Linked DNA regions of Homo sapiens. The protein of the gene in region 3 interacts with the protein of the main gene of each other region in a pairwise test. Each region holds a gene or a part of one and is shown on either strand. Other genes may lie near its edges.

The links.
Region 1: the proteins of ARL3 (region 3) and GOLGA4 interact in a two-hybrid assay, tested with the Homo sapiens proteins (one study listed by BioGRID).
Region 2: the proteins of ARL3 (region 3) and TBL1X interact in binary tests that used the Homo sapiens proteins (3 or more experiments, as listed by UniProt).
Region 4: the proteins of ARL3 (region 3) and ARL2BP interact in binary tests that used the Homo sapiens proteins (3 or more experiments, as listed by UniProt).

Annotation. Positions count from the first base shown.
Region 1 is NC_000003.12:37,294,786-37,302,768, forward strand, and holds part of GOLGA4 (golgin subfamily A member 4), read left to right. Parts: intron 1-193; coding exon 194-292; intron 293-1,301; coding exon 1,302-1,434; intron 1,435-4,047; coding exon 4,048-4,235; intron 4,236-4,502; coding exon 4,503-4,586; intron 4,587-7,399; coding exon 7,400-7,547; intron 7,548-7,983. UniProt on the Homo sapiens protein: Involved in vesicular trafficking at the Golgi apparatus level. May play a role in delivery of transport vesicles containing GPI-linked proteins from the trans-Golgi network through its interaction with MACF1. Involved in endosome-to-Golgi trafficking.
Region 2 is NC_000023.11:9,684,475-9,692,457, reverse strand, and holds part of TBL1X (F-box-like/WD repeat-containing protein TBL1X), read right to left. Parts: intron 4,442-7,983; coding exon 4,183-4,441; intron 880-4,182; coding exon 747-879; intron 346-746; coding exon 204-345; intron 1-203. UniProt on the Homo sapiens protein: F-box-like protein involved in the recruitment of the ubiquitin/19S proteasome complex to nuclear receptor-regulated transcription units. Plays an essential role in transcription activation mediated by nuclear receptors.
Region 3 is NC_000010.11:102,682,966-102,690,948, reverse strand, and holds part of ARL3 (ADP-ribosylation factor-like protein 3), read left to right. Parts: intron 1-1,005; coding exon 1,006-1,056; intron 1,057-4,947; coding exon 4,948-5,133; intron 5,134-7,983. UniProt on the Homo sapiens protein: Small GTP-binding protein which cycles between an inactive GDP-bound and an active GTP-bound form, and the rate of cycling is regulated by guanine nucleotide exchange factors (GEF) and GTPase-activating proteins (GAP).
Region 4 is NC_000016.10:57,248,259-57,254,135, forward strand, and holds the end of ARL2BP (ADP-ribosylation factor-like protein 2-binding protein), read left to right. Parts: exon of another isoform or gene 1-278; coding exon 279-385; exon of another isoform or gene 386-1,508; coding exon 1,509-1,594; exon of another isoform or gene 1,595-1,713; intron 1,714-2,152; coding exon 2,153-2,249; intron 2,250-3,445; exon of another isoform or gene 3,446-3,534; intron 3,535-3,907; coding exon 3,908-4,009; 3' UTR 4,010-5,377; downstream 5,378-5,877. UniProt on the Homo sapiens protein: Together with ARL2, plays a role in the nuclear translocation, retention and transcriptional activity of STAT3. May play a role as an effector of ARL2.

The DNA.
Region 1 (7,983 bases), on a different chromosome or scaffold from region 3:
TAAGGAACAAAATCATTTGTTGATGCAAATGTTTTAAATAATGTTAATGTTTTACATACTAATTATTCTCTAATTATTGTTGCTGATACCTTAAGGGGAATGCAAATCTGTATTCAACATGTTTTTAAATTTTGAAAACTTTGTATTTTTTGTTTTATACTGAAAATTACCTGTAAATCATTTTATGTTTTAGGAGCTCCAAATGGACCAGCAGGCAAAGAAACATCTGCAAGAGGAGTTTGATGCATCTTTAGAGGAGAAAGATCAGTATATCAGTGTTCTCCAAACTCAGGTAAAAGAGTAAAAGAAAAAGTGTGGAATTTTTTGGATAAAGAAAAATAGAGGGGGTTTGATTTGGATATCTGCAAGGTTGCAAAAGTTTTTTCTTTTTTAAGACCTATTTTTAAAACTTTTTGCTTTCCTCAATTTTTTTTATTTTTAATTTTTTTTGAGACAGAGTCTTGCTCTTTCACCCTGGCTATAGTGCAGTGGCGTGATCATAGCTTAACTGCAATCTCAAATTCCTGGGCTCTAGCAATCCTCCAGCCTCTGCCTCCAGAGTGGCTGGGAATACAGGCATATGCCACCACGCCCAGCTAATTTTTAAATTTTTTGTAGAGATGGGGTCTCACTATGTCGCCCAGGCTGGTCTCAAACCCCTGGGCTCAAGCGATCCTTCCGCCTTGGCCTCCCAAAGTGTTGGGATTATAGGCATGAGCCACCACTCCTAGCTCTTCAGTTAATGTTAAGGATACTTTTTTATTTATTGTATCTTTTGACTAACTGCATAATAATAATAGCAAATATAAAAACCAGCTGTATTGGGAGTAAACTTTTTATTTTGATTATTTTCCCCCACTTTAGTAAGAAGAATATCATTTAATCCGTCCTCTCTCTGTTTTAAATAAAGTACAATAAGCCATCCACATTGATGTGTTTTTGTATGTGTGGATTCAACCAACTGGATCAGAAATATTTAGGGGGTGAAAACCATGTGTAGTGAACATGTAGACTTTTTTTCTTCTCATTATTTTCTAAAATATATGTAGTACAACAACTACTTGCATAGCATTTTCATTATTTAGGTAGTTTATGTAATCTAGGGATGATTTAAATTATACTGGAGGATGTGTGTAGGCTATATGCAAATACTACACCATTTTATATAATGGACTTGAGCTCCTGCGGATTTTGGTATTAACAGGGAATCCTGGAACCAATCCCCCACAGATACCAAGGGACAATTGTACTACTCCCATAGTTTTTTTTGACTTTTTTCTAATGAAGCACATTTATATTAGGTTTCTCTACTGAAACAACGATTACGAAATGGCCCGATGAATGTTGATGTACTGAAACCACTTCCTCAGCTGGAACCACAGGCTGAAGTCTTCACTAAAGAAGAGAATCCAGAAAGTGATGGAGAGCCAGTAGGTAAGCTTCATTTTGTCAAAAGGTTAATTTAAAAACTAGAGGAGAGCCAGGCTCCTTGGCTTACACCTTTAATCCCAACACTTTGGGAGGCCAGTGTGGGAGGATCGCTTGAGTTCAGGAGTTTGAGACCAGCCTGGGCAACATAGAGAAAACCCTTCTCCACAAGAAAAACAAAAACAAAAATGAAACCCCAAGAAAACCTAGAGGAGGATTTTGAGAGATTCCAGGATGTGAGCTGATAGATATGGGCTGAGGTAGAAGTGTCCGTGGTCCTAATAGTTTCAGAAAGATGCAAGGGTTTGTTTTGTTTTTTTGGTTCTTTGTTGTTATTTAGGAGAAAATAAGTGTTTTTTGTTTGCTTGTTAGTTTGAGATGGTGTCTCACTCTATTGCCTAGGCTGGAGTGCAGTAGCATGATCTCGGCTCACTGCAACCTCCATCTCCTGGGTTCAAGCGATTCTCCTGCCTCAGCCTCCCGAGTAGCTGGGATTACAGGCACACACCACCATGCCCGGCTAATTTTTGTATTTTCAGTAGAGACGGGCTTTCACTATGTTGGCCAGGCTGGTCTCGAACTCCTAATCTCAAGTAATCTACCTGCCTCAGCCTCCCAAAGTATTGGGATTACAGGTGTGAGTCACTGTGCCCAACCAAAAAAGTTGTTTTAATATGCAAAAATTTCATAGTCTGTAACACCACATTTTCATTGTAATTGAAATTCATTTATTATGCTACACTGTTTTATTAATAGCAGTAGCTAGATTTCATATGAACAGGTCAGTTCTGCTTACATGCTAATAAGTGGGCTATTTGTAATTGTTTGGATATTTTAGTTTTTAAATATTGCTTAAATAGTTCTATATTCATAGATATTTGTATTTGTCCTATTAATTGCTTTTTAACTGGAAAAAGAAGAAATAGCTATATTTTGTCTTAAAATTCAGTTACAGCCTTCTTTGCTTTGAGGCTTGAGGTATATACGCAATAAAATTCCCGTCTTTTATTTCCTAGCTTTTTCTTTCAAAGGGACTTATGATAAACTTGGAGTAAGTAGTTGAGCAGTTAACTATCTGAGCAACCAGACTATGGTGGGGTGGTGGGGCGGCGGGGCCAGTCCCGAAATTCCCAGACATGTGGAAACTTCAGACTCATAAATGTAAAGAGATGGAGAAAGTTGCACTTACCAGAACTCCTCTCAGAAAGAGATTAGAATGTGGTTGGAAAGAATACCGTACTTTATTAATCCTTTTGGGAGGTGAGCTAAGACACATAATTTTGAATAACAAAAGATGATTATCAAACTGTCATTTTAAGGAGGGTGGATTCAGTTAATGTTAGTTAACTACTGTGCCATTCTGAATGGGGTTGAACCTCAAAGAGGTGAATTACTACTAAGCTTCTTCAGATAAAGATTAAACAACTAATACTAAGTAGAGGTTTGGAAGGGTGCCAGTTTATTAGCTGACTAGGGTTGTCCCTTCTTCATCTAAGAGTATAGCAGAATATTGGTGTAAGAATACACTCCTGGTGGGGCGTGGTGGCTCTCACCTGTAATCCCAACACTTTGGGAGGCTGAAGCAGGCGGATTGCCTGAGGTCAGGAGTTCGAGACTAGTCTGGCCAACATGGTGAAACCCCACCTCTACTAAAAATACAAACAAGTTAGCGAGACGTGGTGGTGTGCGCCTGTAATCCCAGCTACTTGGGAGGTTGAGGCAGGGGAATTGCTTGAACCAGGGAGGTGGAGGTTGCAGTGAGCCGAGATCATGCCACTGCACTCCAGTCTGGGCGGCAAAGCGAGGCTCCGTCTCAAAAAAAAAAAGAGGGAATACACACCTGTGTAGTAACAGACTGTTCCTGGAAGTGTCCTTATATTTGTAACCGCCCAAAGGGTTCACCTTGCCCACTGCCTAGACAGAGCTGATTTATCAAGATAGGGGAATTGCAGTAGAGAAAGAGTAATTCACGCAGAGCCGAGTGTGCACGTGACCAGAGTTTTATTTTACTCAAATCAGTCTCGCCAAGCATTCACGGATCCGAGTTTTTAAGAACAATTTAGTGGGTGGGAGGAAGCCAGTGAGCCAGGAGTGCTGATTGGTCAGGTCAGAGATGATATCATAGGGAATCAAAGCTGTCTTCTTGTGCTGAGTCACTTCCTGGGTGGGAGCCACAAGATCAGATGAGCCAATTTATCGATCTGGGTGTTGCCAGCTGATCCATCAAGTGCAGGGTCTGCAAAATATCTCAAGCAGTGATATTAGGAGCAGTTTAGTGGTGGTCAGAATCTTGTAGCCTTCAGCTGCATGACTCCTAAATGATAATTTCTAATCTTTTGGCTAATTTGTTAGTCCTACAAAGGCAATCTAGTCTCCAGGCAAGAAGGGGGTTTGTTTGGGAAATGGCTTTTATTGTCTTTGTTTTAGACTATAAACTATAAACTAAGTTCTCCCAAAGTTAGTTCAGCCTACACCCAGGAACGAACAATGACAGCTTAAAGGTTAGAACCAAGATGGAGTCGGTTAGATTAGATCTCTTTGACTGTCTCAGTCATAATTTTCCAAAGGCAGTTTCATATTCCTTACTGATGGGCCCTTCTTATGTTGCTTTATTGTTAGTGGAAGATGGAACTTCTGTAAAAACACTGGAAACACTCCAGCAAAGAGTGAAGCGTCAAGAGAACCTACTTAAGCGTTGTAAGGAAACAATTCAGTCACATAAGGAACAATGTACACTATTAACTAGTGAAAAAGAAGCTCTGCAAGAACAACTGGATGAAAGACTTCAAGAACTAGAAAAGATAAAGGTAAAAGAGCAGATGAGTTTTGTTCTAATTTAATCTATAAAGTTAGATCCACAGGCTCCACAGCATGGCTTGTACCTCCGGGAGAGGAGAGTGGATGGAAAGGGCATTTTTGTTTGCCCTGGCCTACATAACACCAAACCTTGAGACTTACTGTGTACTTTTTTCCTTCTGCACTGTAACATGTATATAAATTAGATAAATGTTTAGAGTTCTCAAATGAGAAGAAGCTTTATTAGAGATGGAAATGAATTTAAAAATTTTTTTTAGGACCTTCATATGGCCGAGAAGACTAAACTTATCACTCAGTTGCGTGATGCAAAGAACTTAATTGAACAGCTTGAACAAGATAAGGTAAAACAACAAAACCTATGATACTAAAATTTGTCAAGAGGCCCCAACATTTACTTTTGGAAACAGTTGGAAACATTCATGCTTGTTTCTGTTTTCTAAAAATTATTGCAGCTTTTTCCATGAAAAATCTTTAATTTCTAGATTTTTGTAACTACTAGCATTAGTTTTGTGTCATGTAAAACTGATTCTCTGATTTCTTGATCCCAGTCAGCATTATGATTTGTAGACTAGAATAACTGTTGCAAAGGAAGTTTATATTTATAGTACATAACTACTTTACAGAGAAAAGTTATTTATAGTTAAGGCATTATAAATGTGAATGATATCAGTATGTTCTTTCAGATAATATGGAAACAGATTAATCTCTCAGATAAGTTGCCTAACAAATAAATAAGGGGCTGGGCACAGTGGCTCATGCCTTTAATCTCAGCACTTTGGGAGGCTGAGGCGGGAGGATTGCTTGAAGCCAGAAGTTCAAGATCAACCTGGGCAGTAAAGCAAGACCTCCTCTCTACAAAAAAAAAAAAAAATTAGCTGGGTATGTTGGTATATGCCTGTGGTCCCAGCTACTCGGGAGGCTGAGGCAGGAGGATTGCTTGAGCCCAGGAGTTAGAGGCTACAGTGAGCTATGGTCACACTAGTGTACTGCAGCCTGGGTGACAGGGTGAGACCCTGTCTCTTAAAAAAACAACAAACAAAAATAAGTGATAATGTATATATTAGCATAAATAAAAATGTCTACAAATGAATTTTAGAATGTGTAGATGAGATTAGAGGATTGAGGAAGGAATGAGTCTTACCTTTGGTAGTTTGGAGTTGGAGCAGCAGCTAAAGCTACGCAGCAAAGACAACCAGAAAATTCATGGGTAAACAGTTTTGACCTGTCTTTCAGCTCCAAGTTCTTGGGTCCTTTTTCTAAGCAGCTCCCAGTTTGTTCCATAGCATCCACCATTTTCTTTAATATGCCGGGTTATCACTAGAGTATTTTAAGTGGTCACGTAATTAAGAACATGTCAGAGCTGTCCTGCTGTTAAAATGTATTGGCAATCTTTTTCATCCTTTTGATAATACTGCTTTGCTAGATTATACACTTCTTGAGGGCCTACTTAAATTGTTTTTTTTTTTAAATATTATAATGAAGAACTTAAAACATTTACAAAAGAAAAGCTGCTAAAATGAATTTCTTTGAACCCACCACCCCGCTTCAACAGTTAACATCTCATGACTAATCTTGTTTCATCTGTACCTTCTCAACTGTCATTGTCCTACTCACCCAGAATTGTTTTAGAGCAAATCCAAGAAATTTTATCATTTTTTTCCAAAAGTATTTTAATATATCTTTAAAATAAAAGACATTATTTTTACAATACTATAACCACATTATCATGATCACATCTAAAAATTTAATAATTTTAAAATATGACCTGCTATCTAGTCAGTTTCAGATTTTCTCTAGTTTCTCATATATTTTTTGCTCTTTTATGAATCAGGGTCCAAATAAAGTTTTTTCATTGCAATTGGTTGATATGACTCTTAAGATTTCTTTTAATTTACTGGTTTGATTATCTTCTCTCCTTCTCTTTCCACTATATTTTGGTTTTTGAAGAAACTGAAAGCCCATGATTTTGTTTTGAGATTTCATATAGCAGTGCCTCACTTACGTGGTTGTTATCTCTCTGTCTCTCCATTAATATTAGCCATCTGGAAGAGTCATATTCTAAAGCAAGGGTTGGCAAACCCTGTGGAGAGGGTGCTAATCTTAAGACCATGAAATTGTTGTCACAAAGTCTGAACATTTTTTCAAGAGACAAGTGAACCACCTCATTTTTTGTTAGTCCTAAATGACTTTTTTACTGTATACCATTTAGTTGTCTTTTTCCCCTGCCGACCTCCATTTCTAGTGTAGATTATCCAGAAAGAGGGAACAGAAGTAACTAGCAAGTTGGAGGAATGGAGATGCCTTACAAAGTAAGGAATAGTGGTGGTACCAGAGACAGTCACAGGAAGAAAGAGAAGAACCAGGTAGATGTGTCCTGGGATTTTGCTTTATCCAGTGTGGCAGCAGGCACCTTCCATTCTCAAGTGTCTGGGGTTATCCCCATGTTATAGTACAGATCAATACTTGTAGTTTATTGTAGTGCCAAGCCAGGTTCAGAAGACTATATTTTGTTCATTATAAACTGTTTACTAAGACAGATAGCACATTTGTAGAAAGGCTATAAAATAAATCTTTTAAGTAATAATGTTTTAATGCTTTAAGGATTAAACTATTAAAATTTTTAATGTAAAAAATACTGTTATGCTAGGTAATAGGATTAGAGCAGAAAACAGACCTCAGTTTGTGAAGTATTGAAATAATTGTTATGCTGTACTTAGCAAGAAATATCATTTTTTCTGCCTTTTATTTTTTGTTTTTTAATTTTTAATTTTTTTTTGAGACGGAGTCTCACTCTGTCACCCAGGCTGGAGTGCAATGGCGTGATCTCAGCTCACTTCAACCTCTGCCCCCTGGGTTCAAGCAATTCTCCTGCCTCAGCCTCCTGAGTAGCTGGGATTACAGGCATATACCACCATGCCTGGCTAATTTTTGTATTTTTAGTAGAGACAGGGTTTCGCCATGTTGGCCAGGCTGGTCTCGAACTCCTGATCTCAGGTGATCCACCCTCCTTGGCCTCCCAAAGTGCTGGGATTATGGACATGAGTCACCATGCACCATGCCCGGCCTTTTTCTGCCTTTTAAATTAAGTTTTATCTGTGCTGTTGATGATGCAGTTTTGTTATGCAAATGTTTTAGAGTCTTCACTTCTATTCAGGGAATGGTAATCGCAGAGACAAAACGTCAGATGCATGAAACCCTGGAAATGAAAGAAGAAGAAATTGCTCAACTCCGTAGTCGCATCAAACAGATGACTACCCAGGGAGAGGAATTACGGGAACAGAAAGAAAAGTCCGAAAGAGCTGGTAAGAACTTGAGGGTTACTTGTTTTATGTTGGAACTCAAAAGTTATTTAAAGTGCTTGACCAGTATTTTTAAAAATGAGTTAAATATTGATAAAAATTCTTAACTATAGAGGCTCCTAATAAGACACCCATCTGCTCATTAGAGGAGGCAGAGGTTGGCAAACTGTGGCCTGTGGGCCAGATCCAGCCCACAGCCTATTTATGTACAGCCCTTAGGCTAAGGATGATTTTTACATTTTTAAATACTTGAACAAAAGAAAAATATATGACAGAGACCATATGTGGTCTACAAAACCTAAAATATTTATCATCTGGCCCCTTACAGAAAATGTGTGCTGACAGAGTATCAAAATTCAGATTTAAAATTGTAGAACTTCCCAGTAGGTACAGCATGGTACTTATTAAATAATTGCTACCTTATAGATGCTTTAGGGTA
Region 2 (7,983 bases), on a different chromosome or scaffold from region 3:
CCAGCCTGGGCAACAGAGCAAGACTCCGTCTCAAAATAAAAAAAGAAGCCAAGAACACCTCTCTGGCAGCCCATCAGAGTGGGGGCTGAGCACACAGGACCACCTGCCTCCTATGTCTGCATGGGCTCCATTGCTGCAGCCCCTGCCTGGTGGCTGGCCGATTTTACCAATTTCAAAGTGCCCAGGGGGTGGAAGATGCTTACATTCCAGTCCAGTGAGGTGACGTCTTTGTTACTCGGGACGTCATGGCCCCCCTCTCGTATACAGTGCCTCAACACGAGCTGGGTGGAGCCCCCGTTGCTATTCTCATTCAGGTTCCATATCCTTGCAGTTGAGTCTCCAGATCTACAGAATAAAAACACAGGAGCCTCTGGTGTTTGGTTCAAATGGGATAAGAAGCTCTCCACAGCTTGCTCTCTGGCCAGAGGGCATCTTCAGCACATGCTCTTCTGTCTTTTTCATCCCTCTGGATCCCTGTTTCCCTCTTTGCCATCTTTGCATTTGGTAATTTAAGTGCTGCTGTGTTCCTCACCACCACATGGAGAAAACGACTTGGAACTATGGCTTCTCCACAATATGAGACATGTAGAGAAGTGGCTCATAGAGCCACCCATTCCTTGGTCTGCCCACACACCGGGGTAAGAAGGGGAGTGTGTGTTCCTTTAGGCAGAACTCCAGAGAAGGGCGAGCAGCTTGCATCTCCCATCTCCCCAACTCTGGAGCGCCCCCCACCCTGACATCCTTACCCGGAGGCTAGCAAATCACTGACAGGATTCCAGGCACAAATGAACACCTCAGACTCATGGCCCCGAAGGACTGTGGCTTTGCTGGATGGAATCTCAACCTCTCCATCTATTTCCATTGGCTTCGCGTGATTATCTGTCACAGCAAACACAAAGAGACAAGTGGCTTACCAATACAAGAGAAACACACTTAAAGGGCTCTTTTGTTTCCAGAAACATTTTTTTTATGTACTAAATACTACCTCTGATGATTCCTTTTCTTTTTTTTTTTTTTTTTTTGAGACGGAATCTTGCTCTGTCGCCCAGGCTGGAGTGCAGTGGCACGACCTCGGCTCACTGCAACCTCCGTCTCCCAGGTTCAAGCAATTCTCATGCCTCAGCCTCTCAAGCAGCTGGGATTACAGGCATGTGCCACCACACCAGGCTAATTTTTGTATTTTTAGTAGAGGCGGGGTTTCACCATGTTGCCAGGGTCGGTCTCAAACTCCTGGCCTCAAGTGATCCACCTGCCCCAGCCTCCCAAAATGCTGGAATTACAGGCGTGAGCCACCACGCCCGGCCTACCTCTGATGATTCTAACGAAATCGTGGCTTTAGTGCAATTTAGTAAATATTTTAGGTTTCTTTACATTTTGACAGTCTCTAAATTTCATTGAGGAATAAAAACAGTTTGCTAAGTGCAGTGGCTCACACCTAAAATCCCAGTGCCTCAGGAGGCTGAGGAGGGAGGACTGCTTGAGACCAGGAGTTCAACAGCAGCCTGGGCAACATAGCAAGACCCCATCTCTATAAAAACAACAACAACAACAACAACAAGAAGTTAGCCAGCCCTGGTGGTGCACACCTGTAGTCCCAGCTACTCAGGAGGCTGCGGTGGGAGGATCACTTGAGCCCAAGAGATTGAGGCTGTAGTGAGCTATGATTGTGCCACTGTACCCCAGCCTGGGTGACAGTTATTTTTTGTAACTGGGGCCAGCTAACTACAGCCCATGATCCAAACCTAGTCCCTGGCTGCTTCTGCATAAATAAAGTGTGACTGGCACACAGCCACTGCCCATGTTTTCAAATTGTCTATGGCTACTGTTATGGGCTAAACTATGTCCCCCTAAAATTCATATCTTGAAGCCCCAATTTCCAGGGGCCTCAGAATGTGGCTGTATTTGGAGATAGGGCTTTTGAAAAGGTGAGCAGGGTAAAAGGAGGTCACAAGGGTGGGCCCTAACCCAGTGGGACTGGTGTCCTTATGAGAAGAGGAGATCAGGACACAGACACAACCAGAGGAACGAGCACGTGAAGACATGGAGAGAAGACAGTCTCTACAAGCCAAGGAGAGAGGCCTCGCAAAGGAACCAGCCCTGCCCACACCTTGATCTTGGTCCTCCAGCCTCCAGAACTGTGAGAGCAAATTCTTAAACAGCCTGGTGTGTGGCCTTTTGTTACGGCAGCCTGAGCTGACTCTCACAGCTGTTTTTGCACTCTGACAGACTTCAGCAGCTGTGACAGAGACTGCATGACCCTCAAAGCCTGGGACATTTACTGTCTGTCCCTGTAAAGAAAGTTTGCTAGACCCTGGTTTATGCTCCTGAGAAAGGAGCAATATAGCCTGATCATCAAACAATTAGCCATGGTTAACAGTTTCACAATACGGTGAGGAATTGAGCATGCTTTGTCATATGTCTTTCGTAAAGGTGCTCTGGTGGAAAACCCAGGAAACAGAAGCAATGTGATCTTAGGTTACGTGTCACTGAGTAGGAGTGCTGTTTATGTAAAAAATAAGAAAACGCCTGGTGGTCCTGCTTAGCTCGAGAAGCCTGATACAAAAGATTCAAACAACAATGGGACTCTTCAATGTTGGTGTTTCTTCCATGCTCTGAAAGTGTCATCTGGCTGGAAGAGAGGAAAAACATCTTTCTGCATGTGGCAGACCCACTGTCCCTGGTGATGGCAAGAGGGAAACTGGCATCTTAGCCAGCCACGCAGTGGCAGGGGGCCTGGTAACTCCAGGCAGGAGTGACAGCCAGTATTTTCATTCTTATCAAAATGCGGCCTTCCAATGCTCCTGTCTCCATAGACTGGGCTGTGGGTCAGGCACAAGATGCAGGGTTTGAGAAGGGGGTTGGGGTGGCTGTTCCAGAAGTTCAACCAGGGTGAACTCTGGCCACATGCACAGAGGAGGAGGGCCAGACTCTTCTTTTCCTGCCCCACAATTGTGGACCTTATCAATAGAAGGCTGGTAAGAGGTCTTTTCCTTTTACCTGAGGCAGGTGGCCTTTCTGTCACCCTATTGCAATAGAAACGTTATTAACAATCTGTGAACCTTCCATTAAATGCTGGATCTGCTTCTCCAAGAATTTTTTAGCTGGTGCCTGTGGATGGTAACTTGTCACAGGGCTTGGCTCGGGCTGCAGCCTCATCAGAGGCAGCCGGCTGGCTCTCTACACACCAGGAAGTTGTGGAGCCAAGACGTACCAGGTAAGACAGCAACGTCATAGTCAGCTCGATCTTCAAGGACTGCTGGGCTGCATGGCTGCTCCGAGGGCAACAACTTTCAAATAAGGAAGAACACACACACATACACTACACCATGCACAGGTGTGCGTGCGTGCGCACACACACGCACACAAACTTGTGCACACACACGCACAGGAACACAGGTGCGCACACGCATATACGCGTGCACGCACACACGCACACACGCACACATACACGCACACGCATGCATACACACTTGCACACAGACACAGGCACATACACATGCAGATATACACATGTACAACATACATATGCACCCATGCATACCTGTGCATGCAAGTGCATGCGCGCACACGGTGCGCCATGCACGGCACATATGCTCGCTCTGAACTTGCACCCTGAAGTGGCGTCCCTACGGGTGTATAGAGCAGTATGTCTAAGTGGAGCAGGTTCTCTGGGTAGAATTTTGGGCTCTCTGACTGGCCACATACTCACAGGCAATCACCTAACAGGGACTGATGTCCTGGGGTTTTGCAAAGACCAAATAAGCCTATGCCCAGTCTCTGGGGCCCAGTGCCCTTGGCAGGAACTGCAAGCTCAATAATTATACCATAATTTGGCCAAAAACCCTCAACATGGAAGGCTGGAGGCTGAGACTAAAGGTGTCCATGAATGAAACACTTTTGTTTATCACGGGCAATAATCATGTGTTACATGAGAGTTCTCAGATTAGCAGGCGCAGCACGATTTCCTAAAGTTGAAGATGAGGGTGAAGAAGCTCAGGTCCAAGGGTTGTGATGGAAAAAATGGAACGGGAAGTTCTTCCGGCCAGATCGTAAGCAAACACTAGAGAGCAGCTTCTAAGACATTTATAGCAGGCAGGTTTTTAAGAAGGCATTCGGATTTGCCCAAGAAGAAAACAATGAACCCAGAGAGGCCCACCGAACTCCCAGAGCCCCTGCACTCACTGACTGAATGTGCTCTGTTCTCTTCCCCATTCACCGTGGCCTCTCTGTTCTTCGATGGATTTTGGTGGGAAACGCCGGCTGAGGTCGTGGTGGCTGCTGTCGCTGCTGCCGTGGCCGCAGCCGCCGCCGCCGCCGCACTGGCTTGCTGCTGAGCGAGCTTCTCTCGGAATGCCTGCTGCCGCGTCTGCACCACGTCGGGCATCACGGCGTCTATCAGTGACAGGGACTCTATGGGGCGGCCGTCGAACACTGTGCCATCCTGGGGAAGCAAGCCAAGGTACAGCTGTCAGCTCACGGGGGTGAGGGCTCTGGGAATGGCCTCTGCTCTCTGGGCAGGAGAAGCGCAGGGAAGTGGGGCGTAAACAGCTGGCTCCCAGCAACCAGGGGGCCACGGGGGAAGCGGCATGGACCTGGAGCCTGGGGTGAAGGGATCCCACGGTGGGCAGGGAAGGGGACACGACAAACTGTTGGTAAGAACTAAGTGTGATGGTTGTTCTGAGTGTCAAACCCAATTGGGGCATTGAGGACAAAAAGGCCATTTATTCTTGACAGAAAGTGCTATCCCTGATGGCACAATTCTCAACGTGGCGGGGGCGGGGGGTGACTGTGACTCCTTGGGGGGCATTAGGCAACGTCTGGAGACTTTTTTGGCTGTTACAACTAAGGGAGGAGAGGTGCTCCTGGCATCTGGTGGGTGGAGCCCAGGGACGCTGCTCAACATCCAACAGTGCCCAGGATGGCCCCACCACAGAGAAACACGCAGCCCCAAATACTGAGTGCTGCGGTGGAGAAGACCTGCCCACGTGCTATCGCGACTGTGCAAAATCTCTGCAAATGACCATCCATTATATGGGAGGGTAACGCTTCAGAAGCAGAGCCCAAATGAGATGCACACAGCATTTAGGCCTGGATTCCAAGTCCATCTGTCCAGGGGATTTAATAAAATAGGCACTTGCTGCTACTTGAAATGACTCCTTGGGTTCAGGGTTAGACTAACCATAGCCATGACACAATTGACATCATTTTGTTTTGATTCATGTTTTTTTGACCATTCTTTGATTCTCTGATTTCCGTTTACCATGGAAAACTTTCCACACACGTTTAAAAATACAGCAGGAGGTTCTTTCCTTGTGAAACACGCCAGATATTCGAATCAGGTGAACCTCAGTAAGCCTTGGGGTTGTATCTGGATGTGCAAACACATGTTTATATGCTCTGAACCTGAATTACTTCAGAAGTGAGGAAGAACTGAAAGGCTCAGGTTTCAGCTGAAGAATAACTAAATGAAACATCACTCCAGATGATTTCTGATTACAAGACAATATTCAAAATAAAGAAAACAATACAACCTATGTAAAGAACTAGCTGCATCACCTCCTCAGGCACTCTTGGCCCTTGATTCTGGCCATGGAGTGGACAATGGTGACCGATGGGTCAAGACGCTCCCACACCCCCTTCCTCCTTCATATGTTCACACCCAAATGAACAAGCCCATGACAAAACGCGGTAACTGTCCAAAGTAGTAACAACATGTCCTCATTTAAACTCCGCGGGCACACTGTCTCTCTTTTTTCCTTAGAGACGGGGTCTCGCTCTGTCATCCAGGCTGGAGTGCAGGGGCACAGTCATGGCTCACTGCAGCCTCAAACTCCTGGACCAAACTGATCTTCCTGCCTTAGCCTCCGAGTAGCTGGGGTTACGAGCATGTGCCACTGCACCTGGCTAATTTTTTTTATTTTATGTAGAGATAGGGTCTCATTATATTGGCCAGGCTGGTCTAGAACTTCTGGCCTCAGGCAACCCTCCTGCCTTGGCTTCCCAAAGTGCTGCGATTACAGATGTGTGCTACCGCCCCTGGCGTCTCACTTTTTAATGATTAGAAACCATTGTGACAAATGGGACAGTCTTTCATTAGCCCCTAGAGTGCTGGAATCTGGAGTGCCGAGGGAAGGCAACTATGAAGGCTTCTCAACAGATGAGAGGTAGAAGGCAATGAGCAGAGAAAAACAGAGTCACAGGCGCCTTGAGATCTGATGGCTGGCTGGACCTTGGAGACATGTCCTCTTAGATACACACGTGTGTGTTTTGCAGTGAGGAAACTAGACAGGGCCAGAAGGAGTCAGTGGAAGATCCCGGGCACACAGTGTGAAGGGGTTTGCCAGGGAAAAAGGAGCACAAGAGAGGAAAAAACACCGGAGTTTCGAAAGCCACAGCTTTGCGAAAAATGGCAGGCAGAAGTGCAAGAAAGAAAACAGGGACTGGGTACAGTGGCTCACGCCTGTACTCCCAGCACTTTGGGAGGCCAAGGCGGGAGGATCGCGGGAGGATCGCTTGAGCCCAGGAGTTCAAGACCAGCGAGACCTCATCTCTACAAAAAATAAAAAAATTATCTGGACGTGGTGGTGTGTACCTATAAGTTCCAGCTGCTCAGGAGGCTGAGGCAGGAGGATCTTTTGAGCCAGGAGGTTGAGGCTGTAGTGAGCTATGATTGTACCACTGTACTCCCACCTGGGTGACAGAGAGAGACCCTGTCTTAAAAAAAAAAAAAAAAAAAAAAAGAAAAGAAAAGAAAAAGAGAACAGGATATTATTACTTTGTGATTTTCTAAAAGAGTTTTTTAAAGCAGTGTAACATGCTGTGAAGGAGAAAGGTTTGTAAGGGCAAGACCAGTTCCCAGAAAGACGGGACAGAGGGAATCCTGGAAGAATGTGACTGCCAGGTGGGATGGATGACGGTACAGTATGGAAAAGTTCAGTAGAATCACGCGCCTGGGTCAGAGTAGGAGAAAGAGAAGCAGAGGGAGGAAGCTGCAGGGGACTGAGAAATCAGTAACAGGGACTGTCTGTGGTCCCAGTGCTTTGGGAGGCTGAGACAGGAGGATCACTTGAGCCCAGGAGGTCGAGGCTGCAGTAAGCCATGACTGTGCCACTGCACCCTAGCCTGGGCAACAGTGTGAGACTCAGTCTCTAAAAATAAAATAGGGACTCAGGTGAAGGCGGCAAGAAAGGTTGTGGATCCCATTATTCCCCAGAAGTCAAGGGGATCTTCACTGCAGAATCATGAGACCAGAATAGGAGGGGACAAGAGAGGGTGAGGTGTGTGGTTTAAAACCAAAATTGGTATAAAATTGGCACAACTCCTCACTGTGGACCAATGTAAAAAGTGGGAGGGGTTCCAAGCCAAGTGCACAGTTTTAATGTGCATTTATTTTTCCATCCTCCTACCCCATCTGCTCTACAACGAGCCCGGTAATGAAGGCATCCCTTGAGATCCTCATTAACACCAGAGCCATCACCTCTCTGCCCTGACGCAGCCTCTGGTGATGCCCTCTGCCGGGTTCTGCTGAAATACAGATTCCACCTGACCATGTGTGGGGCCCCTCTCTAACCAACCTGCTCCAGAAATCAAGAAGAGACAGCAAGTCTGCATTAAGTGCAAGGCAAACGTCCACTCCGAAGCCCAGAGCAGCTGAAGATCTGCCGTATCTTTTTCAGATGTGGCGGTGTAAGTGTTTACATCAACTAACAGCCAGTGATTCTACATTTAAGTCAAAAACACAGAGCCATGTGGGAGGGGCACTGGAAGCTTGCTGCTGTGTGTCCACACAACCGGTATTAACACAAAGTGGAAAAGAACCCAACTTACTTTCTTCTTCTTCCTTTTTTTTTTTTTTTTTTAATTTTAGAGATGGAGTCTCACTGCATTGCCCAGGCTGGAGTGTACTGGTGCAATTATAGCTTACTGCAGCCTCAACCTCTCAGGCTTAAGTGATCTGATCCTCTCACCTCAGCCTCCCGAGAG
Region 3 (7,983 bases):
AGGAGTCTGAGACCAGCCTGGGTAACATAGCAAGACCCCATCTCAAAAAAAAAAAAAAAAAAGAGGTTTGAAAGACTAAGAGTAACTCCTAGAAGTACCAGAGTTATTCTTAGGGAAGACGACATTGAGAACATCTGACATGAGCTTTATTAATTTGAGGGTTTGTCTAAGAAATAAAACTTGAAGTGTGATGGAAGGGAGGGGATAGGGTATCTTCCATTTCTCTTTAGGCCGAGAAATAATAACAGCCTTTTGACAGATATAAATGTCTTTTCAAGATATATTCATGTTACTACTAATCATTTACTGTATTATTATTAATATCAGCTTTGTGTTTAAACTTAACATAATTTAAACAAAGTAGGCCAGCCACAGTAGCTCATGCTTGTAATCCCAGCACTTTAGGAGGCTGAGGCAGGTGGATCACTTGAGGTCAGGAGTTCGAGACCAGCCTGGCCGACATGGTGAAACGCCGTCTCTACTAAAACTACAAAAAAATTAGCTGGGCATGGTGGCGTGTGCCTGTAGTCCCAGCTGCTGGGGAGGCTGAGGCAGGAGAATGGGGTGAACCCAGAGCCGAAATCATGCCACTGCACTCCAGCCTGGGTGACAGAGCAGAGCAAGACTCTGTCTCAAAAAAAAAAAAAAAAAAAGGAAAATAGTGAAATCTATATTGTAGAGTTGTAATGAGGGTTAATAGAGTAGACCTAGTAATGTTTAGTGACAACATCAAGTGCCCATTAAATGTAGCTATTTTATCCCACTTGGTTTTCCTAAATCCTAGACTTTGGAGCATTGCTGAAGGTATTTTCTGGGCATCCCTATTTAATTAATTTGTGTATTTGTTTGTTTGGCCTTCATAAATGAGATGAGACTCACCAGTCAATTTCTGTATGTTGTGCTAATTGGAATATGCTGATTGGGGATCACCTGCTCCTTTTGCAGAAATTGCCCTGTCTTTTCCATCTCTGCTCACTGAAATAACCTTCTTCTTTTCCTTTATAGATATATGTAATCGACAGTGCAGACAGAAAAAGATTTGAAGAGACGGGTCAGGTAAATAATTCTTTTTTATATCAAAGTTCTTATATATATATATGTATGTACTTTTTTTTTTTTGAGACGGAGTTTTTGCTCTTGTTGCCCAGGCTAGAGTGCAATGGCATGATCTCGGCTCACCCCAACCTCCGCCTCCCAGGTTCAAGCAATTCTCCTGCCTCAGCCTCCCGAGTAGCTGGAATTAGCATGCACCACCACGCCTGGCTAATTTTGTATTTTTAGTAGAGAGAGGGTTTCACCACATTGGTCAGGCTGGTCTTGAACTCCCGACCTCAGGTGATCTTCCCGCCTCAGCCTCACAAGGTGCTGGGATTACAGGCGTGAGCCACCACGCCCAGCCTAGTATATTTTTTAAATACTAATTCTTCTGTTGAGATAGTTCCCAAATAACTGGGTATTCATTAATCAACCTTGTAAATGTGTGAGAGTGAGGGAGGTTTTTGTTTTGTTTTGTTTGTTAACCTTTACAGTTCAAACAAGACAGTTATTCTAGCAAGCAGGCAAAAATACCAGTTGTCTGAAATTAGTTGAGAGTTCTTTAAACAGTTTTTTTTTCCCCCCTCCAAAACGGAGTTTCACTCTTGTCACCCAGGCTGGAGTGCAATGGCACAATTTCAGCTCACTGCAACTTCAACCTCCCAGGTTCAAGTGATTCTCCTGCCTCAGCCTCCCAAGTAGCTGGGATTACAGGCGTGCGCCACCACGCCCGGCTAATTTTTTTGTATTTTTAGTAGAGACAGGGTTTCACCATGTTGACCAGGCTGGTCTTGAACTCTTGACCTCAGATGATCCACCCACCTCAGCCTCCCAAAGTGCTGGGATTACAGGCGTGAGCCTCCATGCCCAGCCTAAACAGTTTTCTAATTAAAGCTTTTTAGCTTTAATCAAATTGAATATATGAGATACAGACAAGTGGAACTTAGCACCATGCCCAAAGGCTCTTCAGGTTTTTTCCCAGGCCATGTGAAAACGAACCCAGAGGAACAAGTCACTTCTCATTTTTATTTACATTTTTCAATACCTACTTAATTGATTCAGGGGTAACTTTGACAAATCTGAAAGGACAGGAAAAAATGCACATGCCAAGGGCTGGGTGCGGTGGCTCGCGCCTGTAATCCCAGCCCTTTGGGAGGCTGAGGTGGGCAGATCACTTGCAGTCAGGAGATCAAGACCATCCTGGCTAACACAGTGAAACCCTGTCTCTACTAAAAACACAAAAAATTAGCCAGGTGTGGTGGCACGTGCCTGTACAGTCCCAGCTACTCTGGAGGCTGAGGCAGGAGAATCACTTGAACCCACTGCAGAGGTTGCACTGAGCCGAGATTGTGTCACTGCACTCCAGCCTGGGTGACAGAGTGAGACTCCCTCTCAAAAAAAAAAAAAAAAAAAAGTTTTTTAAAAAGTTATCATTGCAGAGTCCTTGGCCTGTGTCCTAAATGACCACAGGTGGCCTTCCAAAGGTAGCAGTTCTCATGTTTATGTCCCTTTTTTTGAAATTGAGTTGAGAACTCTCCAGACTTCTGGAAACAACCCACCACCCTTCCATACCCTGATGATTTCTGGATTATCACTCATGTGAAATGAGCTTGGAGGTGGAGGGGGTCCTATGTAGTCATCTGCCTCTTGATCCATACAGTTCTCTTTGAAAGCCCATGTGTTTTAAGTAGCTAAAATGTGGATTTAATGAGGAAAAGGTGGGGCCTATCATTTAAGTACATATACACCCTTTCCTATAGTTTTTGTAAACAAAATCACATATAGTTTAGACCCCAACCTATAACCTAAATATCAGGGACCTTGCCAGATGGACCAATAAAGTTATTTTAGGATGTAGGTTTGATGAAATGTGAAGCATGTGCATGCATGTTTTAGAGATAGAGATTGATGAAACAGAATTATCTCTAAAGTAATTGTCATTTTCAGTTTAAATTTCATACACACACACACATACACACACACACACGCATTGAAAGTTATTTGCAGGTAATAACCTTGGGTAAGTTTTGAATCTCAAACCACTTCTTGTCTTCTCCCTTGAATGATTTTCTCAAAAGTGTTCTATGGGCCAGGTGTGATGGCTCATCGCTATAATTCTAGCACTTTGTTAGGCTGAGGCAGGAGGATCCCTTGAGCCCAGGAGTTCAAGACCAGCGTGGGCAATATATCAAAACCCTGTCTCTACAAAAAAAAATTTTTTTTTTCCAGGCAGAATCTCACTCTGTCACCCTGGCTGGAGTGCAGTGGCATGATCTTAGCTCACTGCAACCTTTGCCTCCTGGGTTCAAGCAATTCTCCTGTCTCAGCCTCCCAAGTAGTTGGGACTACATGTGCCCACCACCATGCACAGCTAATTTTTGTATTTTTAATAGAGACAGGGTTTCACCATATTGGTCAGACTGGTCTCGAACTCCGCCCACCTCAGCCTCCCAAAATGCTGGGATTACATGGGTGAGCCACCGCGCCTGGCCAAAAAAAATTTTTTTTTAATTAGCTGGGCATGGTGGCAATCACCTGAGGTCCCAGCTAGCTGATCAGGAGGCTAAGTTAAGCATTGCTTGAGCCCAGGAGGTTGAGCCTGCAGTAAGCTGTGATCGCACCACTGCACTCCAGCCTGGATGACAGAGTGAGATATTGTCTCAAAAAAAAAAAGTGATCTGTGAATCATCTGTAGCGGAATCACTTCAGGAGTTTGCTAAAAATGTGGATTCCTATGCCGGGCGCGGTGGCTCACGCCTGTAATCCCAGCACTTTGGGAGGCCAAGGTGGGGGGTGGATCACAAGGTCAGGAGTTCAAGACTAGCCTGGCCAAGATGGTGAAACCCCGTCTCTACTAAAAATACAAAAAAAATTAGCGAGGCATGGTGGTGGGCGCCTGTAATCCCAGCCACTTGGGAGGCTGAGGCAGAGAATTGCTTGAACCCGGGAGGCGGAGGTTGCAGTGAGCCGAGATCGCGCCACTGCACTCCAGCCTGGGCAACAGAGCAAGACTCGTCTCAAAAAAAAAAAAAAAAAAAAAAAAAAAAGTAAATTCCTGAGCCCTAGCTCAGACTTTCCAAAGTCAGCATCTCTGGGTTGGGCCCAGGAATCTGCCAGGGGAATCTTATACAGGTTCAAGTTTGATAATCAGACTGAGCACGGCGGCTCACACCGTAATCCCAGCACTTTGGGAGGCCAAGGCGGGCAGATCACTTGAGGCCAGGAGTTCAAGACCAGCCTGACCAACATGGTGAAAACCCATCTCTACTAAAAATACAGAAATTAGCTGGGCATGGTAGTGTGCACCTGCAGTCCCAGCTACTCAGGAGGCTGAGGGGTGAGAATTGCTTGAACCTGGGAGGTGAAAGGTTGCAGTGAGCCGGGATTGCGCCACTGCACTCCAGCCTGGGCGACAGAGCGAGACCCTGTCTCAAAAAAAAAAAAAAAGAAAGAAAAAAAAAAGTTTGAGAATCACTACTCTTGAAAGTTGCTAGTTGATCAGCTTAACTGTTATTTTTTTTTCTGATTAGAACTGCATGGTTGTCCGGGCATGGTAGCTCACGCCTGTAATCCCAGCACTTTGGGAGGCCGAGGTGGGTGGATCACCTGAGGTGTGCAGTTCTAGACCAGCCTGCCCAACGTGGCAAAACCCTGTCTCTACTAAAAATACAAAAATTAGCTGAGTGTGGTGGTGCATGCCTGTAGTCCCAGCTACTCAGGAGGTTGAGGCAGGAGAATCACTTGAACCTGGGAAGCGAAGGTTGCAGTGAGCCGAGATCACGCCATTGCACTCCAGCCTGGGTGACAGAGTGAGACTCTGTCTCAAAAAAAAAAAAAAAAAAGTAGTGTATGGTTAAATATCATAGATGTATAGATTTTAACCTTCCCTCCCTCTCCCTTCTCAAAATCCAGGAACTAGCGGAATTACTGGAGGAAGAAAAACTAAGTTGTGTGCCAGTGCTCATCTTTGCTAATAAGCAGGATTTGCTCACAGCAGCCCCTGCCTCTGAAATTGCAGAAGGACTGAACCTGCATACCATCCGCGACCGAGTCTGGCAGATCCAGTCTTGCTCAGCTCTCACAGGAGAGGGCGTTCAGGTGAGATTACAGGAAGGCTTGGCCACCTGGCAACATGACAGCTAACCGAGGTGGTCTGTCTCATTGGTTGGGCTGATCTTGATGGGCAGATGAGCCATTCCAAGATATGAAGGGCATGGAGGAATTTGGTTCTTTTCTGCTTAGCAACCAATCAGATATCATGAGGTGCCCCAACAGTGCCCCAGGTAAGCCACCCCACATGTGCAGCAAGCTTCCCCTTTGGGAGGGATGTGAGAACAGAAGACTGAGGATTGTCTCTAACTCTAGGATTCTTTGATGATTGATTGGATTGGGGTTTTGTGTTGTGTCTAATATTACGGATGCTAAAATGCCTGTACTTCCAAGGTGATAGCCACCAATAACCATACACGTACTAGTCATCCTAGAAGTGTTTTTGTTTCTTCTGTTGGTTATCTTCCCTACCCCTAGGGTTGGTGTCTGTTTCCTGCTACTTCAGGTTGGTTTCCCACTGGGAGGCTTCTGCTGACAGAAAGCCCCATGCTTTGTACTGAGGAACTGTGTACCGGAAAAGCAGGCTCCCCCTAATTTTTTTTTTTTTTTTTTTTGAGACGGAGTTTCATTCTCATTGCCCAGGCTGGAGTGCAGTGGCACAATCTCGGCTCACTGCAACCTCCGCCTTCCAGGTTCAAGTGATTCTCCTGCCTCAGCCTTGCAAGTAGCTGGGATTACAGGCATTCACCACCACACCCAGCTAATTTTTTGTATTTTTAGTAGAAACGGGATTTCGCCATGTTGACCAGGCTGGTCTTGAACTCCTGACCCCAAGTGATCTGCCTGCGTCAGCCTCCCAAAGTGCTGGGATTACAGGCATGAGCCACCCTGCCCGGCCCTGGCTGCTTTTTAAAACATCAAGGCCAGGTGCAGTGGCTCATGCCTGTAATCCCAGCACTTTGGGAGGCCGAGGCGGGTGGATCACCTGAGGTCAGGGGTTCGAGACCAGCCTGGCCAACATGGTGAAACCCCCGTCTCTACTAAAAATACAAAAAAAATCAGCCGGACATGGTGGTGCACACCTGTAATCCCAGCTACTTGGGAGGCTGAGGCAGCAGAATTGCTTGAAGCTGGGAGGCGAAGGTTCCAGTGAGCCAAGATCGCATCACTGCACTCCAGCCTGGGCGACAGAGCAAGACTCTCTCTCAAAATAAATAAATAAATAAAAATAAACAATCAAAATTTGTCTAACATATTTTACTCCGATTGCACATAGGATGGCAGTCATAAGGCCTAAGGTTATTTTGATGAAGATGAGACCCAAGAAAAGATAGTAATTTTCTTGTGTTTCTGAAAACCACTTCAGCATGAGCCTGTCTAAAAGGTTTAGATGACAAATTTAGAAAGCTGAGAGTAGCCGGCTGTGGTGGCTCACACCTGTAATCCCAGCACTTTGGGAGGCCGAGGCAGGCAGATCACGAGGTCAGGAGATCGAGACCATCCTGGCTAACACAGTGAAGCCCCGTCTCTACTAAAAATACAAAAAAATTAGCCGGGTGTGGTGGCGGGCACCTGTAGTCCCAGCTACACGGGAGGCTGAGGCAGGAGAATGGCCTGAACCCAGGAGGCGGAGCTTGCAATGAGCTGAGATTGCACTACTGCACTCCAGCCTGGGTGAAAGAGTGAGACTCTGTCTCAGAAAAAGAAAAAAAGAGAGAGAAAGCTGAGAGCATCTTGAGGTTGGGGGCTATTATGAAGGTGGGGCTGAAGAAAAGCAATATAGTTTGTGTGCATATTCGTAAGAAAGTGCAAGTACAGCTCTGGAATCTTTCTTTTGCTTGACCAGAGTGTTGAAGAAAAAGCAAAGCGAGAATTAACAGTAAGCCTCTTGTATCTTCCACCAGCCTTAGCGATGTGAAAAAGGAGAACTAGAGTAATCTAGAATCAGTATTTAGAGCCGTGGCATTTAAAGTCAAGGACACTGCTTCAGAGAAGCCTGGAGGTAGAGAGGGATCTCCTGTCATTTTCTTCCCAACCCCCAGCCCTCCCCCAACTCCCATCAGGTGGAGATTAAAGGATAGAACTCCATGCTCCTGGCTGTGTAACCACCGTAGACAGTGCCCTTCACGGGATCTTTAGGCCACAAAAGAGGCAGCAAGCTACTAGGCAGCTAGAGGGTGGGGTTGGGGACAGGCAGGGGAGCACTGCAAAATAAACCAGTTTGAGTGAGTAAAGTGAGATTATTATATATGATTTGATTTTGATAAGAAAGTTCTTCCCAGATTGGGGCCTTCAGCAACCAAGTTCACAGGAAATGATATCAAGAGAGATCCAACAAAAAACTATGAGCAAAAAATAAAAAATGATTTTTGTATGGAGGAGAAATAGTTTGAAGGTCACTTAATTAGTTTAGTAGATAGTACCATGGTGTATAGAATTGGGTAGTTAAGACTGGGATTTCAAGGTTAATGAGATTAGATTATGGTTAATAGAATGATATAAATTTAGAGAATTTAACCATTATTTGAAATGGGTTATTTAATAAAAATGTTAATTAAGAAGGGAATCTGCTGTCTATTGTCCTTTCGTGGTAACCTTTGGGGACTAGAGAAAGGTCATGGAGTTTTGCTGTGGAAGCGCTTTTCACTGTGAGCCACTGGTTGACCGTGTACCTCCCTAAGGTGGTGCCTCTGACCCAAGCTCTTGTCCACACACCAGCTTCCTGGTTTTTGCCTTAAAAAGAGTCACTTAAGTGGAATTCCTTTCCAGCATTGCTTAGTTGAAGTACAGGCCTTTAGTAATTTTTATTTATTAGGGCTAAAAATATTCTAAAACTGAAAGACTTTACTAGAAAAATATCAATAAAGATCGAATGGTTTGAGGTTCACTTTCAAACGT
Region 4 (5,877 bases), on a different chromosome or scaffold from region 3:
ACCGAGATCGCACCATTGCACTCCAGCCTGGGCAACAAGAGAAACTCCAGCTCAAAAAAAAAAAAAAAAAAAAAAAAAGAAAGAAAGAAAAAGAAAACAGGAGGATTGGGCTATTTCCACATCAGGGTCCCATTTAATACCCCCTTAAAACATCAGCTTTCCTTCCAGAGACTGATCATTGAGAAAGCAGTACTGCTGACATAGATCCTGCCTACTTATAAATCATAATGGTTGGTAATCTCCATTAAAAAGAATAAATTTTCCCCACTGTGGTTCAGATGACGAGTTCCAGTTATTACAGAGAAATTTCATGGACAAGTACTACCTGGAGTTTGAAGACACAGAAGAGAATAAACTCATCTACACACCTATTTTTAATGAATACGTAAGTAGATTTCTATGTCTCCTACCAGGAGGTCAGAGTTTTTAAAAATTTAAATTTAGATTCAAAAGACATTGAAATTTGCTGCCTTTTAAAATATGCCACCAGTACACTTCCAGGAATCCTCATTAGCATCTGGTTTAAGTTCATTTTCCTCTGCACAGCCTTTGGGGCTATTTTCCAAAAGGCTTTCAGGCAAATATTTGATTAACTCATCAGCTTCTTATTTAAAAGAAGTTTGACCTGGGCTTGGTAGCACACCTGTAGTGCCAGCTATTTGGGAGGTTGAGGTGGAAGAATCACTTGAGCTTAGGAGTTTGAGACCAGCCTGGGCAACACAGCAAGATCTCTGTCTCTAAAAAAAAAATGATAATAATAAAGATAATAAATAAAAGACGTTTGGCTTATCATAATCCTGCTTTTAATCACAGTACATGAGTTCTTCATACCTTGCATTTGCATGCTTTTGACAAACCTTTCTGCTTTCACATACTCTTTCTTTCTTCTATATAATCCAGTCATATATGCATGACTATTAAGTAAAAGTGAAAACTGAGACCAAGATCACTAACTATTTGGTGGAAAAACCAAGACTGGAACCCAGGAACCTCAGCTCGTCACCCTTGGGTCTCTACACTTTACCCTGAGGCCTCTTAACAGCCCCCTGGGATTCTGTCATCTAAGAATCCATTTTGGCCTCCAGGACTTTATTTTCTTAACACAGAAGCATGGCATAAACAAACCTGCCCAGAAGGAACCTGTGACTGCCTCCATGTCCGTATGTTCTGTTACACAGATGCCCTCTACCCAGGAGGCAAAGCCCCCACTTACTGCATCCTGCACTGGGTTGTGGGTGTGGGTACCGTGCTACTCACTGTCTCCACCTGTGTCAGAGCATCCACCCTGTTACAGCACCATTATCAGCTAAGGCTTCTCTTCCACACCAGGCTGAGTACTTCTCCAGGACAGGAGCTGTGTTTTGGTCCTCTTTGGTATCCTTGGCACTCAGTGTAGATTGTGGCACACAGACCTCAGGAAATGTTTAGAAAGGGCTGGGCAGGCTTTCTGAAAAGAAGTCTTGTTTTCCCAAAGTATGGTCTCACCAAAATCCTTTCCACTGTTGCAGATTTCTTTGGTAGAAAAATACATTGAAGAACAGCTGCTGCAGCGGATTCCTGAGTTCAACATGGCAGCCTTCACCACAACATTACAGTGAGTTGAGCTTGACTGATTTTTGTGTTTTGTTTTGTTTTCTCACTTTCTTCCTTCCCTAGGCTGACCAAAAGACGCTCCTTGTTTGTTTTCCTGTGCATGCCGTTGGTGGTTAGGTCCTATGGAGGAAGCCCTCAAACCTTTTAATGAAATCTTGAAAAGATCAGGCATTGGCTCACGCTTGTGTTCTCAGTGCTTTGGGAGGCCAAGGGAGGAGGATCACTTGAGCCCAGGAGTTCAAGACCAGCCTGGGTGACATAGTGAGGCCCCGACCCTACAAAAAATAAATTAGTCAGGTGTGGTGTTGCATACCTGTGGGCCTAGCTACTCAGGAGGCTGAGGCTGGAGAATCCCTTGAGCCCAGCAGTTCAAGGCTACAGTGAGCTATAATTGCACCCCTGCACTCCTGCCTGGGTGACAGAGCAAGACCCAGTCTCTAAAAAAACAAAACAAAAATAATGCGGGGGGTGGGGCTGGGGTGGTGGAAAGAAAAACGAAAGCAATCTTGAGGACTGTCTCATCATTCATTCACGAAACAGCCATCTGTTCCGTTTGCAGGCACCATAAGGATGAAGTGGCTGGTGACATATTCGACATGCTGCTCACCTTCACAGATTTTCTGGCTTTTAAAGAAATGTTTTTGGACTACAGAGCAGTAAGTTACTACTCCTATTTATTTAGCCACTTTGAGCCACTTAGAAAATTCCAGGTAGAAATACCGAACATGAACCTCCCACGCTTCCCCCATCATTCTCCCTTCAAACTGGCCGATGAGGCATCAGAAGAGTGAGCTGCTATTCTGTTGTGGCTGGGACCTTCTCATGTTTTCATGAAACAAGCCCAGGTACCAACTTAGAGTTCCTAATCAGAAGGACAAAACCGAAAAAGCAGGTCTCAGGTCTCATTCTGCCTTGCCTTTCTTTTATTTATTTTTTTTTTTGAGACAGAGTTTTGCTCTTGTCACCCAGGCTGGAGTGCAGTGGCACCATCTTGGCTCACTGGAACCTCTGCCTTCCAGGTTCAAGCAATACTCCTGCCTCAGCCTCCCGAGTAGCTGATACTACAGGCACCTGCCACCACGCCCAGCTAATTCTTGTATTTTTAGTAGAGACAGGGTTTCACCATGTTGGCCAGGCTGGTCTCAAACTCCTGAAGCATGGTCCGCCTCGGCCTCCCAAAGTGTTGGGATTACAGGCGTGAGCCACCGCACCTGGCCCTGCCTTGCTTTTCATATAATGCAAGCTCTTTATAAGAAAAATAGGAGACTGGGCATGGTAACTCACACCTATAATCCCAGCACTTTGGGAGGCCGAGGCAGGCAGATGGCTTGAGCTCAGGAGTTTGAGACCAGCCAAGGCAACATGGCAAAACCCTGTCTCTATGAAAAATACAAAAATTAGCTTGGTGTGCTGGTGTGCATCTGTAGTCCCAGTCAGCTACTTTGGGGGCTGGGTGGGAGGACCGCTTGAGCCCAGAAGGTTGAGATTGCTGTGAGCTGTGATTGTACTGCTACAGTCCAGCCTGGGTGACAGAGTCAGACCCTGTGTCAAAAAAAAAAAAAGAAAAGAAAAAGAAATGGTGTTGGGTGTGGTTGTGCATGCCTGTAGTCCCAGCTACTTCGAAGGCTGAGGCAGGAGAATCACTTGAGCCTAGGAGTTTGGGGCTGTATTACACAGCAGTGGTGCCTGTGAATAGCCACTGCACTCCAGCCTGGGCAACATAGCAAGACCCCTATCTCAAAAAAAAAAAAAAAGAAAGAAAGAAAAATGTTTTCCAGTGAAGGGAGGTACATTTTAAGAGTGCATTTTAAGAATGACCAGGGCCAGGCTGGACACAGTGGCTCATACTTACAATTCCAGCGCTTTGGGAGGCCAAGGCAGGAGAATCACTTGAGCCCAGGAGTTCAAGACCAGCCTAAGTGACATATCAAGACCCTGTCTCTACAAAAATAAAAATAAAAAAGTTAGTCAGCTGTAGTGGTGCACACCTGTAGTCCTAGCTACTCAGGAGGCTGAGGCAGGAGGACCACTTGAGCCCAGGAATTCCAGGCAGCAGTTAGCTGTGATCAAGCCACTATACTCCAGCCTGGGTGACAGAGCAAGACCCTACCTCTTTAAAAATAATATTAAAAAAAATTAAGACTAGGGCAGGCCAGTATTGAGCAGAAATGCAGAATAACCAATAACCTGTGTTCCCTTCCTATGTACTCTGGAGGTCCACGTTCCCACCTTCAGCTCTGCCTTCCCCATGTCAGAGGCAAGATTCCAAGCCAGGGCTCTTTCTAGTCCTTCCTTTGGTTGTTTTCTCATATAGGAAAAAGAAGGCCGAGGACTGGACTTAAGCAGTGGCTTAGTGGTGACTTCATTGTGCAAATCATCTTCTCTGCCAGCTTCCCAGAACAATCTGCGGCACTAGGTCCTACCTCCAGCCAATGAATGGGATCATTCTGGATGTCACCAGCCCAATAGGCTCAGCTCATGATGACAGAACACATCTTGGAAAGACTGACTCTGTTATGTAACTCTTCATTTATGTTAAGTATTAATAGGTCAAAACCAAAATGACCTAACCCTCCTGGACCTATTTATCCTGAAACACCTTCTTGTATTCATTAACCATAGTACTCCTCCCCACCTCAAGTAGACACCTCTCTCAGGAGCTTCTGAGTCAGACGCCTCTGGAGCGAGCCCTATGTCAGGCACTCCACCTGGGGGGCCCTTCCCCAGCATACCTGCTGGTGTGTAAGTGTGGACTAACCCGCCGCCACCACCCTCTGTTCCAGCAGGCTCTGCATGAATCTTTGTGCACTTGCACCTCTTTTTCACATGGGCCACAGTTTCAGTACTTCAGCCTCAGTGGGGTTCCTGATGTTTATCTAGGGTGTTACTCAAGCCCAGTTTGAGATTTTGGAGTCTCCTGTGATCACATCTTGTCTCGGCTGTAGGAATCAACAGAAGGAGACGTCCTCTACATAAAAGCTCCATGTGAAAAGCTACTCCTAGTCTTAACATTTGCAGTCCTTGTGTCACTGTCTTCTGGTCCTGATGTAGTCCCACTGTTTCTAGAAGTCTCTTTTAAGCATTATTTTTGAAAAAAAAAATATTTTTATAGATGAATACTCAGGCTAACCTAGTGGATGTGATCTTGGAACTTCCATGATTATCCACTTAAAGATCAAAGTATTATATGCTGTGTGCTTTTTAGGTGTTTGTTAGTACTGTGAAGGCAAAAATGCTTTCTACATTGACATTCATTCCTATTTTACTGGGCACCTATGAATGTATGCTGTGTGCTAGAAATAGACTAAAACATATTCCTATAGCATGTTAGTGTGTTTGCATGTTTGCTGAAAATCCTTTGTGTATAAACCAGTTTGTAAGGTTCTCTGGGTTAGGTAGGGACTCTGCAGTTTCTTCCTGTCAAAATCTCTCCTACCAAGATGGTGTTCCACTGTCCAGCCCAGCATGAGTAGCAGGTAGAGCACAGCTTTACTGGCTGTTTGTATGCTTTGGTTTAGTGCAATGTGTGGTAGATTACTTATCAGAAAACATATATGTCATCTCTAGAACGAAGAAAAAGCATAGTAGTTCAATTCCCAGTGTGTCCCTTTGATTTTTTTTTTTTAATAGTAAAAATAAGAATCTGTACTGACTTTTCACTTGGCCATTCTGGTTTTAAAGGACAAGCTACAAGCTCTGTGTTTCTGTACTGATGTGTCACTTATTAAATACTTTTGTACCATGAGTAAAACTTCAGGTGTTTCGCAAGAACCACCATTCTCAATGAGTTGTATTCTTTCTTTAATGTAGCCACTGCCATAAGGTTATTAATTATTGCTTTGGTCTTTTTTTTTTTTTTTTAAATGCCACCTCTCCTGGGCTTGCTTTCCCTTGCTTTGTCTATAAATGGGAGGTCCACCACAGCCCAGGCATGCTGGGAGCACTTGCTAAGACCTGTGGACCAGCCTGCCTACTTGAGAAAAGGCCAGTGGACAAGTCCAGAGATTAAATGATGAAAAAACGATGATAAAGGCAAATTGGTTTTTCACCCTTTTTTTTTTCTTTTTTTTTTGGGAATGGAGTTTTGCTTTTGTTGCCCAGGCTGGAGTGCAATGGCACGATCTCGGCACACTGCAACCTCCACCTCCCGAGTTCCAGTGATTCTGCTGCCTCAGCCTCCCAAGCAGCCGGGATTATAGGTGTCCACAAACACGCCCAGCTAATTTTTGTATTTTTAGTAGAGACAGGGTTTCACCATGTTGGTCAGGCTGGTCTTGAACTCCT